Homo sapiens: one gene and its partners. The protein of the gene in region 1 purifies or fractionates together with the protein of each later gene. This does not show direct contact. Each region holds a gene or a part of one and is shown on either strand. Other genes may lie near its edges.

Evidence for each region.
Region 2: the proteins of PHYHIP (region 1) and KIF15 purify together in Homo sapiens (affinity purification with mass spectrometry; 3 studies listed by BioGRID and IntAct, with this or other methods). This does not show direct contact.
Region 3: the proteins of PHYHIP (region 1) and LIMD1 purify together in Homo sapiens (affinity purification with mass spectrometry; 3 studies listed by BioGRID and IntAct, with this or other methods). This does not show direct contact.

The regions. Positions count from the first base shown.
Region 1 is NC_000008.11:22,221,130-22,226,658, forward strand, and holds part of PHYHIP (phytanoyl-CoA hydroxylase-interacting protein), read right to left. Parts: intron 4,088-5,529; exon of another isoform or gene 3,313-4,087; intron 3,215-3,312; coding exon 3,097-3,214; intron 759-3,096; coding exon 224-758; 3' UTR 1-223. UniProt on the Homo sapiens protein: Its interaction with PHYH suggests a role in the development of the central system.
Region 2 is NC_000003.12:44,768,294-44,772,655, reverse strand, and holds part of KIF15 (kinesin-like protein KIF15), read right to left. Parts: intron 1-4,362. UniProt on the Homo sapiens protein: Plus-end directed kinesin-like motor enzyme involved in mitotic spindle assembly.
Region 3 is NC_000003.12:45,681,751-45,685,157, reverse strand, and holds part of LIMD1 (LIM domain-containing protein 1), read right to left. Parts: 3' UTR 1-3,407. UniProt on the Homo sapiens protein: Adapter or scaffold protein which participates in the assembly of numerous protein complexes and is involved in several cellular processes such as cell fate determination, cytoskeletal organization, repression of gene transcription, cell-cell adhesion, cell differentiation, proliferation and migration.

The sequences.
Region 1 (5,529 bases):
CAGAGGCTGAGAAGCCTTTCCATGTCCACCAGGCTGGGTGTGGGCCACACTTACCAAGAGGACCACCGTCTGTTGCCTCCAATGCCAAGGGGCGAGGGGAGGGCAGCTGGGCAGAGTGGAGGGAGCAGGGGGGCAGGAGAGAGAAAGCCAGCTCCCTGAACCTGGGCTACCCACCTCCACCTTCCGCTCATCTCTCCCTCGCCCCCCAGCTCCCCAGGAGTCCCTAGCGGCCCACGCTGATGTTGCAGGTCTTGCAGCTGGGGTCCTTCTTGGCATCGGCAGTAGACAGACTCATGAGCTGGTGCCCACTGATCTCCCCCAGGGTGCCCAGGGACAGGTCGACGGGCTCAGTGTAGATGATCTCCAGGATGAGGTCCTGGGCGTGGCGGAAGACCAGCTCCCCATCCTCCACGCTGCAGGTCAGGAACTTGTTGCAAGCAATGTCCAGGAGGGGCAGGCGGTCGCGGCAGAAGCGGTCCCCCAGGGAGCCTTTGGGCGCCAGCACCAGGATGGCGTAGTGGTAGGCCGTGTACATGCAGTAGAAGTCCGCAAAGTAGAGGTTGGTGCTGGGATTGAAGAGGCGCTGAGCTGGGATCTGGAAGCGCCAGCGGCCGTAGGGGGAGTCCTGCGGGGGCTGGCCCGTGTTGAACTCCGTGTTGCAGCTGAAGAAGACCCCGTGGAGCATACCGCTGGTGGGGGAGCCGTGGCTGCCACTGTTGTCCTTCAGGTAAGGCTGCAGCATGTTCCCGCAGTGGGTCCTGCCCACCCCAGGGAGACACACCAAAGGGAAGAGAAGATGTGGCTGGTGAGCCGGGCTGAGGCTTGGCTGCTGCGTGTGGTCGAGGAGGGAGGAAGCCAGCCCAGCTCCCAGCCCTCCCCCAGCCGCCTCCACTAGTCGCAAATAGAACATTCCAGAATGCAAGAGCAGGGAGGGCCCTGGAGAGGGATTCAACCAGCCCACTCCTTCTCAGAGAAGAGATATGAAGCTGTCACTCCCCAGCTTGAAACCCTTTGATGGGGTGTGTGTGAAAAACACGGCGGCTCATGATCTGATCTCTGTGGTCTCCTTGCCACTCCCCACCTCCTGCCACCCCATCCACTTACCCACCCCCTGCACACACAGTCTCCTGCCTCCGTGACCCCTATGCAGGACTCTTCCCTCTGCTGCACTGACTGCCCTCTCCACCTTCCTCCGTCTGGCTTGGCAAACTTCTAATTAGCCTTCAAGCTTCAGTCAAGCGTCTGCTCCCCTCTAAAACCTCCCAGGAACAGCAGACACCTGCACTTGACAAATTTTTGGCTTCCTACTATGTGCAGGACACCCAATCTTCTCACTATGTTGCCCAGGCTGGACTTGAACTCCTGGCCTCAAGTGATCCTCCTGCTTCAGCCTCCCAAAGTGCTAGGATTGCAGGTGTGAGCCACTTCACCTGGCCAGGACACTGAACTGTGCTCAACAATTACACGTACTTTTTACATGAAATCTTTCCATACTGTCTCTCTGACTGGATTCTGAGGTTCTCAAAAGAGTGAACTGTGCCTTTATCTTTACATCCTGGCACCAAGTAAGGTGCCTGGCACCCATGAGTGCTCTCTATCTCTCCCACTCTCGCTGATAAAGGAGCCCAAACTGGGCCACTGACTTGCTTTCCAGGCTGGAGTGCAGTGGTGCAATCACAGCTCACTGCAAGCTCGAACTCCTGGGCTCAAGCAATCCACACCCGGCTAATTCTTTAAATTTTTTGCAGAGGCTGGGGTCTCACTATGTTGCTCAGGCTAGTCTTGAACTCTTGGGGTCAAGAGATCCCATCTCGGCCTCCCAACGTGGTAGGATTACAGGCTTGAGCCACCAAGCAGGCCTTGCTTCTTTAATACAAACCCCAAAGACTCCCAAGGTCCTCACTGCCCTGAGGTTAAAACTGCCCTGACTGTAAGGATAAAGACAGACAGAGGCCGGGCGTGGTGGCTCATGCCTGTAATCCCAGGACCTTGGGAGGCCGAGGTGGGCGGATCACCTGAGGTCAGGAGTTTGAGACCAGCCTGGCCAACATGGTGAAACCCCACTTCATTAAAAATACAAAAATTAGCCGGGCATGGTGGCGCATACCTGTGGTCCCAGCTACTCAAGAGGCTGAGGCAGGAGAATCATTTTAACCCAGAAGGCAGAGGTTGTAGTGAGCAGAGATCGCGCCCCTGCACTCCAGCCTGGGTGACAGAGAAGACGCCATCTCAAAAAAAAAAAAAAAAAAAAAGGCAGAGCAGCTGCTTGCCCTGGCTGAGCCTCAGAAGGATGCGGCCTTGGAGCACTTGCCAGCAGGCCCGGGGATGGTGGGTACTCCTGGTCCTGCCTCACATTGCCTGGTCCTGGCTGTCCTCAGTAACAAGTGACTCCCTGGCTCGAATGAACAAGTGCTTCCCTCTGGGCCTCAGGCTCCTCTTCTGTAGGCTGAGGGTGTTGGATCAGATCACCAATTTTCAAACACTTTTGGACTGCAGCAACTCTCTTTTTATCCCCAAAAGAAATTATACGTGGAAGGGTCACAGGCAAATAAAATTGAGGCTACTCTGACTGGAGGTCAGGTGTGGGGCCCACCAAGCCTCAACCTCTGGTCCCCCCAACCCCATGGCAGCATTCTAAGGGGTTCACTGACATGTCTCCCTGGAGGGAGCACCCAGTTTGAAAACCGACGAGCTGGGTGCTTCCTCGAACCCTTTGTGATCAGAACACTCATTTTGTGCACTCCCTGCCACCTTCCCTTTGGCCCCAGGGCCTGAATCGGAGAGACCTGTGGTGGTAGACCCCTGTGAAAGGAACTGTCCCAGAGTGGGAGCAAACCCAGACCTCATTCTCCCAGGCTCATTAGTACAACACTCTTGCAGAAGGCCCTGTCCCCAGAGCCCTTGATCTTCCCTGAGCCCAATCCCCAAAGTAGCAGTCTCTTCAGAGCCAGCCTGGTGACGTCAGGACATGTCAACCCTAGAGGAGGGACTGGCAGCCACGAGGGTGGGGGTGACCTCAGACAGCCAGGACAGGAGCAGGAAGGGCTGGGAGGGAGGAGAGGCCCGGCGGGTCCAGCCGGGAGCCCGCGCCCATACCTGGCATGCTGGAAGTACTCCTTGTGATGGTTGCGGTAGAAGACGGAGAAGCGGAGCATGCGGCCTGCGATCTGCTCAGCTTTCTCCTGAAGCTGAGCCAGGTGCTCCTTGGCATAATCTGCAAGATCCCAGATGCGGTAGGTGAGCCGAGGGCCAGCTGAGGAGCACAAACACCTCCTGTCCCCACCCCACCCCACACTGTGTGTGCCGGCCAACCTCTGTCCGCCAGAGCAGCAGGGGAGACTAGACAGTCGCAGAACCTTAAACTCAGATGGGAACAGGCCAGCTGGCCTCTGCTGGAAACACAGAGCGCTGCATACTGTCTGTCGTCATCACCTCTGCAACCACATTGCCAGAGGCTCCGGGCTCTCCGGGTCAGAAAAAGGCAGAGGGCTGCCCAGTTATCCTGCCAGGGTCCTCAGGGGCTGTGATCCCAGGCCATCCTCATGTGAAAAGAGGACCCCTGGGAAAAAGGAAGACTTGAGACGGGAGGGCTTGAGGTCCTTTTGGGAAAGTCTCTCAAATACAGTAGATAGGAGGCTGCCCACACCACCCCCATGGAAGCCAGCTGTAATTACAGGTGACGGCTCGTGAGGGTCTAGGGAGAACTGAGCCCAGGCAATGTTTAGGCAGTCCTGGGTCTGGAGCAATGGCTCTCAGCTTGAGCATCTCAGGAGAAACAGGGAAGGCTGGAAACAGGATAGCAACATTGAACCCTGGGGCCCCAGCAAGGCTGCTGCTGGCACATACAGCTCCTTGGTACAAATTAGAAGATGCCCTTCCCTCTTTGTGGCTGCATCCCTGGCCAGGGTGCTTGGTTTGGAGAGAGGAGTGTGGACTGGATTGCAGCCAGATCTCCAATTTGAATTAAATGCCCACTGCACATGGAGGTCTCAGGGGTAAACCAAGAAGCTTTCCCCACCAGGAGCAAGAGGCCTCCAGAGAGTGGGGTTCTGCAGCAGAGCTAAGAAAAAACACCACTCAACCAGCAGCAGTGGTTCACGCCTGTGATCCCAGCACTTTGGGATCACTTGAGCCCAGGAGTTTGAGACTAGCCTGACCAACATGGAAAAACTCCATCTCTACAAAAAAATATCAAAAATTAGCCAGGAATGGTGGCATGTGCCTGTAGTTCCAGCTACTCAGGAGGCCAGGAAGCTGAGGAGGGAGGATGGCTTGGGCTCGTGGGGAGGAGGTTGCTGAGGCTGCAGTGAGCCATGATCATGCCACTGCATTCCAACCTGGGCAACAGAGCAAGACCCTGTCTCAAAAAATAAAAATGAAAAAGGCCAGGGATGGTGGCTTATGCCTGTAATCGCAGCACTTTGGGAGGCCAAGGCAGGCAGATCACCTGAGGTCAGGAGTTCAAGATCAGCCTGGCCAACATGGTGAAACCCCATCTCTACTAAAAATACAAAAAAAAAAAAAAAATAGCCAGGCATGGTGGTGGGCGTCTGTAATCCCAGCTACTCAGGAGGCTGAGGCAGGAGAATCGCTTGAACCCGGGAGGCGGAGATTGCAGTGAGCCGAGATCACGCCACTGCACTCCAGCCAGGAGGCGACAAGAGCGAGATTCCATCTCAAAAAAAAAAAAAAGGCAGAAGGAGAAAAAAAAGAAAAAGCACCACTCAAAAGACAACAGCAGCTCAAGGAGACTTGGGGCATAAATCTTGGCAAAGGATAGAGCCAGCAGCCTCAGAGGCCCGGGGCTGAGAATGTTCCGTGTCTCTTCTGTGTGACAGAGAGATCTGGAGCAGCTCTCACCGTGAACACCAAAAGAATGTAATCTTGTGGGGGCAGACCCTGAGTCGTGAGGGACCAAGCACACATAGGCCCACTGTTTGTTTGTGATGGAGTCTACAAGTTAAGTTCTGCTAAGAGAGTTTGCGGGGCCATTGACCAGGGGCCATTTTCCCAGGCTACGTGAAGGCTCAGAACAAGTGAAATGTGATTGCCTCACCAAGTGCACATTGACAAATAATTGATTAAGCAAAATGTGGTCTATCCATACAATGAAATACTATCCAGTTTCAAAAAGGAAGGAAATTTTGGTATATTCCAGTCACAAAAAGACAAATCCTATACAATTGTACTGATATGAGACACCTAGAGGAGTCATATTCATAGAAACAGAAAGTAGAATGGTAGCTAGCAGAGGGAAATGGGGGGCGGTTATTTAATGGGTATAGAGTTTTGGTTTTCCAGGAAGAAAGGTTCTGGAGACTGGCTGTACAACAATGTGAATATACTTAATACCACTGAACTGTACACTTCAAAATGGTCGAGACGGCAAATTTTACGTCATGCACCTTTGACCACAAGGTTTAAAAAGATGCCTGTGATCTGGTACCAAGCCCGAAAAGTAACTCCCTTTCTTAATGGAAGTGGTCTTGCCAGCGTGATTAGTGGGGTTCGCATTTGCCTCCAGTGAGA
Region 2 (4,362 bases), on another chromosome or scaffold:
AGTCAGAAATACTGGCCACTTTGCATGGCTAATGTCGGGTAATAAGGGACTCAAAAGGATTTTCTTAAAAAGCGTTCAGCTTAATTGAAAGTGGATATCCAAGTTATAAGTATATTTAAAAGACCTTTATGTTTTTCTCTTCTTAGATCTTATTTTGCTGGGTAAAGGTTTTTTTCTCAGTCAACTGAATTCTTTTTCTCCATTTTGTCTTGCCCCTCTTAATGCATGCATGAGGGGCCCTAAGATAATTTCTGATGGCCTGAGACTCCTTGGGAAAAATAGAAAAGTCTCCATGGATTCCATTTTGGGAGAGACCTTTGTTTTCCTAATGGAGCCCCAGGAATTAGAGGTGGATGGATCCCTCTCAAAATCTGTTTTTGTCTTCTAGCTATACCTGTTTACTAGGCCCTAGAAACTACATGCTTTCCTAGCCCTGCTCTTAAAGGGCCCCACTGAGAGGCTAATTGTCCAGTTACGAAATTGGTGAACAGAAAATCTTACAGCTACTGGATCTTCTTCTGGCTGTGTAGTTATGTATGTGTTGTGTGTGTGATCTCTATAAACAAGAGTTCTAATTAATTGGCCTAAAGGAAAATAAGCACTTAGATCAAATATTTTTTAAAGGAAAGAAGAGCTGTGGTACCTTTTAGTTCACATGACTTTAATCTTTGAGAAATAAAAACAGCCTTAAAAATTATTGGTAAAATGCAGATGTCATCAAAATGTACATTTTTGCCTAGGGTTAAAGGACTGTTTTGAATTAGATAAGATAAAGCTAAATGTGTAAACAAGTAGTGGAAGGATTGTAAAAATTGATCTTGCAAAAAAAAATTCCTTGTGTGAACATACTGATTAAATTCAAAAGGGTATTATATGGCTTTTCCATAAATTGAGCATTGAAATAAAAGCACAACAAGGTTCTCTTAAGGCACCAATCTGCTCTTTAGCTAAATCTGTAAAGGGTTATAAAAGGTTTTTGCTTTTTAAAATTTCTGAGTCATCATTTTGACAAAATAAATAACTTACGGTAATCTGGAATTCTATTTCATAAAATCAAATGTTTTAAACCTCTAACATATTCAACAGGCTTCCCAAAATCAAACTTCAGTTTCAAAATTGTCTTTCCTGACACCTGGCTTTTGGATGCTACAGAGGGCCCCTGACACATCCAGAAGAGAGGTAAACAGGATTACCTGACATGTTTAGGTACATGGGATTGCCAAAATAATGTTTAATCTTCTTCAGGTTATATTTTAGGGAATAATATTAATATATGTTCCAAAATTGTAAAGGATTCCTAAAATTCTAGTGTCTGGCCATAAAAATGGAATCTGTGGTGCCTTTTCTGTTTTTTCCGAGGAGTCCCAGGCCATCAGAAATTATCTTAGGGCCCCATCATGAGTATATGCTATCAATCACAATTAAGGTTGTTATGTTAAGTTATTATAAACCACAGAGATAACCAAATTTATTTGTCAATTCTGTTTCTGACTCTAACTACCCTGGACATTTTGTTATTCACAGACAATTGTTGTCTTGTTTTCATCCTCTTCAAAAGATGGTTTATAATCAGCCATAGAACTTTCATAGGTGCTCTCAAATGCAGGTTTCTGATAACTTTGGAGATTGAGACATTAGAATAAAGAAAAAACAAACAGGACTCATGAAGAGCTGAAATGTTCATGAATATCAAGCAAAACAAGAGTTAACTGGATGGACTTAATGAATACAAAACTGAAGTAATCTTTTTGACTTTCGCTTGGACCATTGCCAATCCTTGCTTTGTTTTTCAGAGTGAAGGAAACTTATTTTGAACTATTTACAGCCTTTAATAATTGAGTAAGGTATACTCCTGTGAACAAAATTTGGAGCATGTTTGTCTCTCTCTCTCTGCCTGGCTTCTCCAGAATTTGGAAACTAGTTGTGAGTATACTTAACTTATGACAATATATTTGTTTGCATCAGTGCAATAAGATTCCATTTTCTTTGCAACAGGACACAACTGAAGACACTAGTTGTTTTACCAAGGCCTTTGACTGGAAGGGTATGCTTCCTTTTAAGGAGTCAAGCTTGACTTGCAGAACTGATAAAAGCTCCTTGGGAAAACTGGCCTCATACCTTGCCTACACAGTCCCTGTACAGGGTTCCTAATCTGCGGTGAGTAAGAAGTGTCACTTTTTAACAGGCCCAGGAACCCTATGCTCTTGGGACCTCAAGAAGAGAGGAGTTTACCCAACTCACAGGTATTTGAGGGTAAAAACCCACAGCTGGGTTCAGCTTTAGAAAGTCCTATCTGAGATTCCTTGTGGAATAGAGTTCCATCAAAGCCAATCTAAAAGCCCTCTGTAAAAATAAGTATTCTTGCTGCACTTCATGCAAAGAATCAAGCCAAGTATAAGACCAAAGTCTATTTTGCAAACAACTCAGTCCTATCATGGTTTGTTTTTAAGAAAACTGAGGACTGGAGAGAGATAAATTATGTTTAAAAACTTATCATCATTAAATTCTAGACCCACTAGTTGTTTTCAAGTTTTTTGCCTAGTTCGTTTAAAAACTAACCCTGCTTATGCCTGTGATCCAACCAGAGATCTCCAACTACAGCCCAGAAGGAACAAAGGGGGATGGGTAATGTAAAAATCTGAATCAATATTCTAGTTCTAAGCAATTATCCTGCAAATCCTGCTAGGTGGTGGGAATAAATACAGTGCCTGTCATCCAGAGGTTTCCTTTTTGGGAAAGTAAGACCAAGGGAGCTAACCAAAGCCAAGCTCCATGCACCCAAATCTTAGCAAACATAACTATAGCCACCAGTTATCTGGGTGTGTCACAGGGCATCCTTTTCTTTCCCTTGGAGGAGGACCCCTTTCACAGCTTCACCTTAGCATTCAGCTTATGATAAGGAGTCCATACAACCCCTGAGACATATTTTTGGTCCCAAACTCAATTCCCAACTTCAGGTCAAAGCCCTAAGAAAAAAAAAACTGGATCTGAGGGATCCAGAAGCAGACGGTAACAGAAGTTAAAAAGCACAGCACAGGTGAGCATGACTAACTCCTGCCGATTAAGCCAAGCCTCCTGTTTCATGGATAAACATCATGCTAGTATCCACGACATAAATGAGGTCTAGAGAACTTGAAGGCTACTGACAGCAGGGGAGATAGGGCGTACGTGGGTAAGCCCTGTTAACATGGGGGAAAGCCGCTTTGACATTCATGGGTGGCACCCTTTGATGATCACCCAGGTCTTGGGGATATAAGGACAGAAGAAATGAAAAGGGGCACGTCACTTTCTCCCTCCCTCACCTACCCTGGGTATTCACTAGGAAGAGAAAGGAACCAGGGACACCTGCTCCCCTCTTTCTTGATGGATTGCCATTCATCTTCAGTCTGTGGCCTTTTTGAATACATCCTGAACCCCTGGGACTCCTTTGAAAAAAACACCTTCTTTTTTCCTTTTCCCCTTGTGTCCTCTCTTCACAGATAGGTAATTGTGTCTCCTTACTACAGCACACTCCCCTTGGATCCATCCTCTAAACTGCGAAAAGTTAATTTCCCAAACCTTAAACTTGAGAATAGCTTAGGACTGGGCTTGGGGGAAGGGAACCTCGAAGACTGACAAGCCAGCAAAAGGGTAAAAATTTTTTTTAACTTTTAACAATCAGGCTTTTGGCCTCCCTCTCCCTGTGCAAACCAGTAAAAGGCCTCGGGATTTTCGAGCATGACTTCTGGCATGACTTCTGTCCTTACCCCATCCTTGTTTTGTTTTGATACATGTTTTCTAATAACTCAGTTTGTCTCTTCTCGCCTTCAGGTCATCAAACTCCAGTCGTGCAACTGGAGCCTCAGATAATGGTCCCTTTTGCCAGGAACCTTTAGATTGGCCTCTTAGGGAAATCTGACTGCCATTTTCCCAACACAGCACCCCCTGTCAGCAGGAAGCAGTTAAGATTGGTCTTTGTCCTTATCTTTATTCTAAGGGCAGTTAGATGTACTTCTTTAGAGTGGGGAATGATAGAGACAGGAGACAGCCAAACGCCTGCCGGGTCACTGAAAAATTCTGTCCCTTAACACATGCGCAGTAAGGAAAATAAATCAATGTGGAGTGGCTCAGACTAAAGGCCCACATGCGCCCTGGGAGAATGGAGTGGAGCCACTGGGAATTTGCACCTTATGCAGGGGGAGAAGCCTGGCCTCTTCAGCTGGTGTATCACACTTTTTTTCACTGAGAGCTTCCTTTTAATAAATTCCACTCTCCTCATCTTTCGATGTGTCCGCGTGCCTGATTTTTCCTGGTCATGCAACACGAACTTGGATTTTAGCTGAGCTAAGGAGCAAAAAATCTTGCATCAGTGGTTTTTTTTTT
Region 3 (3,407 bases), on another chromosome or scaffold:
TATAGTAAAATTGTTATATAACTTTTTACAAAATCTGCCAGAGGCCTTCCAATGGAGACAGTCCAAGCTGCAGATGAAGCTTGTTGGCACATCCAAATAATCTCTACAACCTACTTTTAGGGCCAGCTCCCACTTACAGACCTTTTAATATAGTAGTTAAAAAAAATTTAGGCAGATAGGGTACAGGAGTCCTTGGTAAGGCTTTTCTTTTAATAAAAAGCAGCCCCCAAAACCATTTCTTTTCCAACAGAAAGCAGCCTGAAAAGTCAAGCTGCAAGCATAAATAAGCAAGCTAGAAGCTTGCACAGATAAATGCCGGCAGCTGCACCTGGAAGACAGGTGCATCCAATATGGAAGATTTCGCCTCCCTTCTGTTTGTTGCCATGTGTGCAGGTGTCAAGGCTCTGGCCAAGTAAAAAACCCTATCTGCATAATAAAAGATCAAGGTGGAATGGCCAGTTTCTTCGAGGGCTATGTAAATGGCACACCTGGTCAAACCAATCCCTTGGGCTCTATGTAAATCAAATACCACCTCTTCAAACCCCCTCCTCTATATATCAGTCTGCTTCCCGCCAGGAATGGGGAGATCCATTCGGAGTCCTCCTCCCTCTGCATGGGGGAGCTGTTCTCTTTTTTCTGCCTGTTAAACTTTCTGCTCCTTAACCCACCCACGTGTGTCCGTGTTGTTAATCTTCTTGGCACGAAACAACAAACCTCAGGTATTTCCCCAAACAACGGAGCCGATTCACTTTGATCTATTTGTATGTCATGGAGTCTGGCTTCCTGCCGAGTTTTCAAATTGGGTGTCCCCTCACTTTCACTCCGTCACAGGCTTGCCGTGGACCAAGTCTCATGGGCAACACAGGGCCCAGAACCACCTGTCCTTGAGAGCTAGGATTAGTTGGAGGGACATGTATGTGACCAAGTGGTGGCAGTCCCTGAGGCTGCCTTACACACCTGGACGTATCCACATAGCCAGAGATTCTCCTAGAAGTGTCACACATCTAGGGCTGTCGCCTACCTGGGAACTTCTAACCAGATCTCTCTGACCATAACCCACAGAGTATGACCTACTCTGTTTTTTTACACCTAGAGTACAAGGTCTCAATCATGTTTGTGTAGGAAGCATTTCTGTTTTCAATCCAGGGAAAATTGCAAACCCCCACTTTCAGGGATTCCTGAAGAAAAGGCACCCAATAACTTAGGAATATTCTTTCATTTCCTCTCAAAAAACGTTCGTTGGAGTCTGTGGTAGGCTGACTAATGCTCCTCCTGTTACCGGTGGAGGGTGTCCAGGTTCTTGGCGTCTTGATAAAGAAATGGACAAAACGCACAAAGCAAGTAAAGAATGAAGCAACAAAAGAGATTTATTGAAAAACGAAAGTACGCTCCACAGGGTGGGAGCAGCCCAAGCAGCTCAAGAACCCGGTTACAGAATTTTCTGGGATTTAAATACCCTCTAGAGGTTTCCCATTGGTTACTTGGTGTACACCCTATGTAAATGAAGCAGAGGTCCATGATCAGTTTGATTGGTTGTGGGAGGGGACCAATCAGAGGCTGAAGCAAAGTTACAAAGTTACACCACCCTATACAAACATCTGACTGGTTGTGTAAAACGCCCAATCAGAGGCTGAAGTTACAAAGTTATACTCCTAGGCAAATGAAGACTTGGCCTAAGACCAGTCTGATTGGTTGTGGGAGGGGATCAATTAGCGATACTTTCAATTTTTCACCTGCCATGCAGAAAAGGGGCTGGGGGTGGGGAGGTTGCAAAGGGAGTAGCCTCTGGTCCTTTTGTTACTTGAGCGTGGAAAGTTGGGGTTTTCCTTTTGACTTAGTTCTAGGAAGTCAGCCTGAATTGGCCTTAGGAAGCCAATTCCATGCCTCCAGACCCTATCTCCTGCTTCCCTCCCCTTCAGAGATGTCCCTGTCCTCCTCACCAGAACCTGTGAATATCTTATTCTGCAAGGTAAAAGAGGCTTTGCAGATGTTATTAAGAATCACAAAATGGGAGATTATTCTAGATTATCTGGATGGGCGTAATCCCAAGTGTCCTTACAAGGAGGCAGGGAGGGTCAGAGAGGAGGTGTGACAATAGAAGCAGCCAGAATGATGCAGCCACAAGCCAAGGAAAATGGGCAGCCTCTAGAAGCGGAAAAGGGGCAAGGAATGGGCAGCACCCTATAGCACCTCTGGAAGCAATTCGCTTCTGCCGACAACCTTTGGCTCGTGTCCAGGATGACAGAATGATATATTTGTGTTGTTTTAAGCCACTGAGGTTGTGGTAATTTGTTAAGAGTGGCCATAGGAAACCAATACAGACTTCAACAGAGCAGCAGTGAGCTTCTCCTCACAGCCTCCTGTGGCTTTTTGACTATGTAGCTTTGATGAAGAAGTATACTGATGGACAATTTACTGCCTCCCATCAACCAGAGTAGTAGAGTGGTCAAGACAGCACCCTCTGGATGAGATGGCCTGGGATGGAGTACTTACTGTTTATTTCACCCTTTTGTGTCTCAGTTGTCTTGTCTATCAAATGAGGGATGATAAAGAACATACAGTCCTTGGAATAACATCTGCTATGTGATGAGCACACGGGAAATGCCAGCTATTACAGCTGCTACTGCTTCATCACAGCACTTAGAACCAGACCAGATACCCCACTGCCCAGTCCCACATGGCCCAATGCCCAAGGCTGACTCTTAGGACTATGCCATCTCCTCCCAATCCCTGGTGCCAGGATGCCTTGCTGGTAGCTGGAAAGTGGCCATGGCGGGAATATTTACATCATAGGTATCAGCAAACACTCCATATCAAGGCTTTTTAATTTTTTGCCCCAGAGGGCTGGTTTGCCAGCACACCACAACTCCAGACCGCCTTTTACCCTGATTGCATCTTCACTCCTTATACCATCAAGGTCTTAAGCAAATAGCAGCCCATGTTGGCAAAATCAGACTAGCCATTCTCTCATCACTTAAAAAGAAAAAAAAAACTTTTATTCTGGTGTAAGGTGCTATGACTATGAGTATCCTCACTCCCAGCTTTCCCGTGTCCTTGGCACGTCAGACCTGGTAGCCACAAGGACTACACTGGAGTCTAGAACAAACTCTTTCCCCACCCCAAGGATTCTAACCACACACTTGGCCCCAACACTCTACAAGTCCTGTCTTCCTGCATGTGGCTGTCTCAAACCTGAAGGATCACTCGCCTTGAGGATTCTTTGGTCATAACCTCAGAAGAGAAAAAACAGTAACATTCACAAGAGAGACAAAGTGACCTTACAAGTCACTGCATCAGGACCTTACAAGTCTCAATCTTAAAGGTCCAGTAAAAGAAACTGCTGATTCTTGGGATATGATTCTCCAAGGCCTCTCACATTTTTATACATCTGGTAAGAATAGACACCA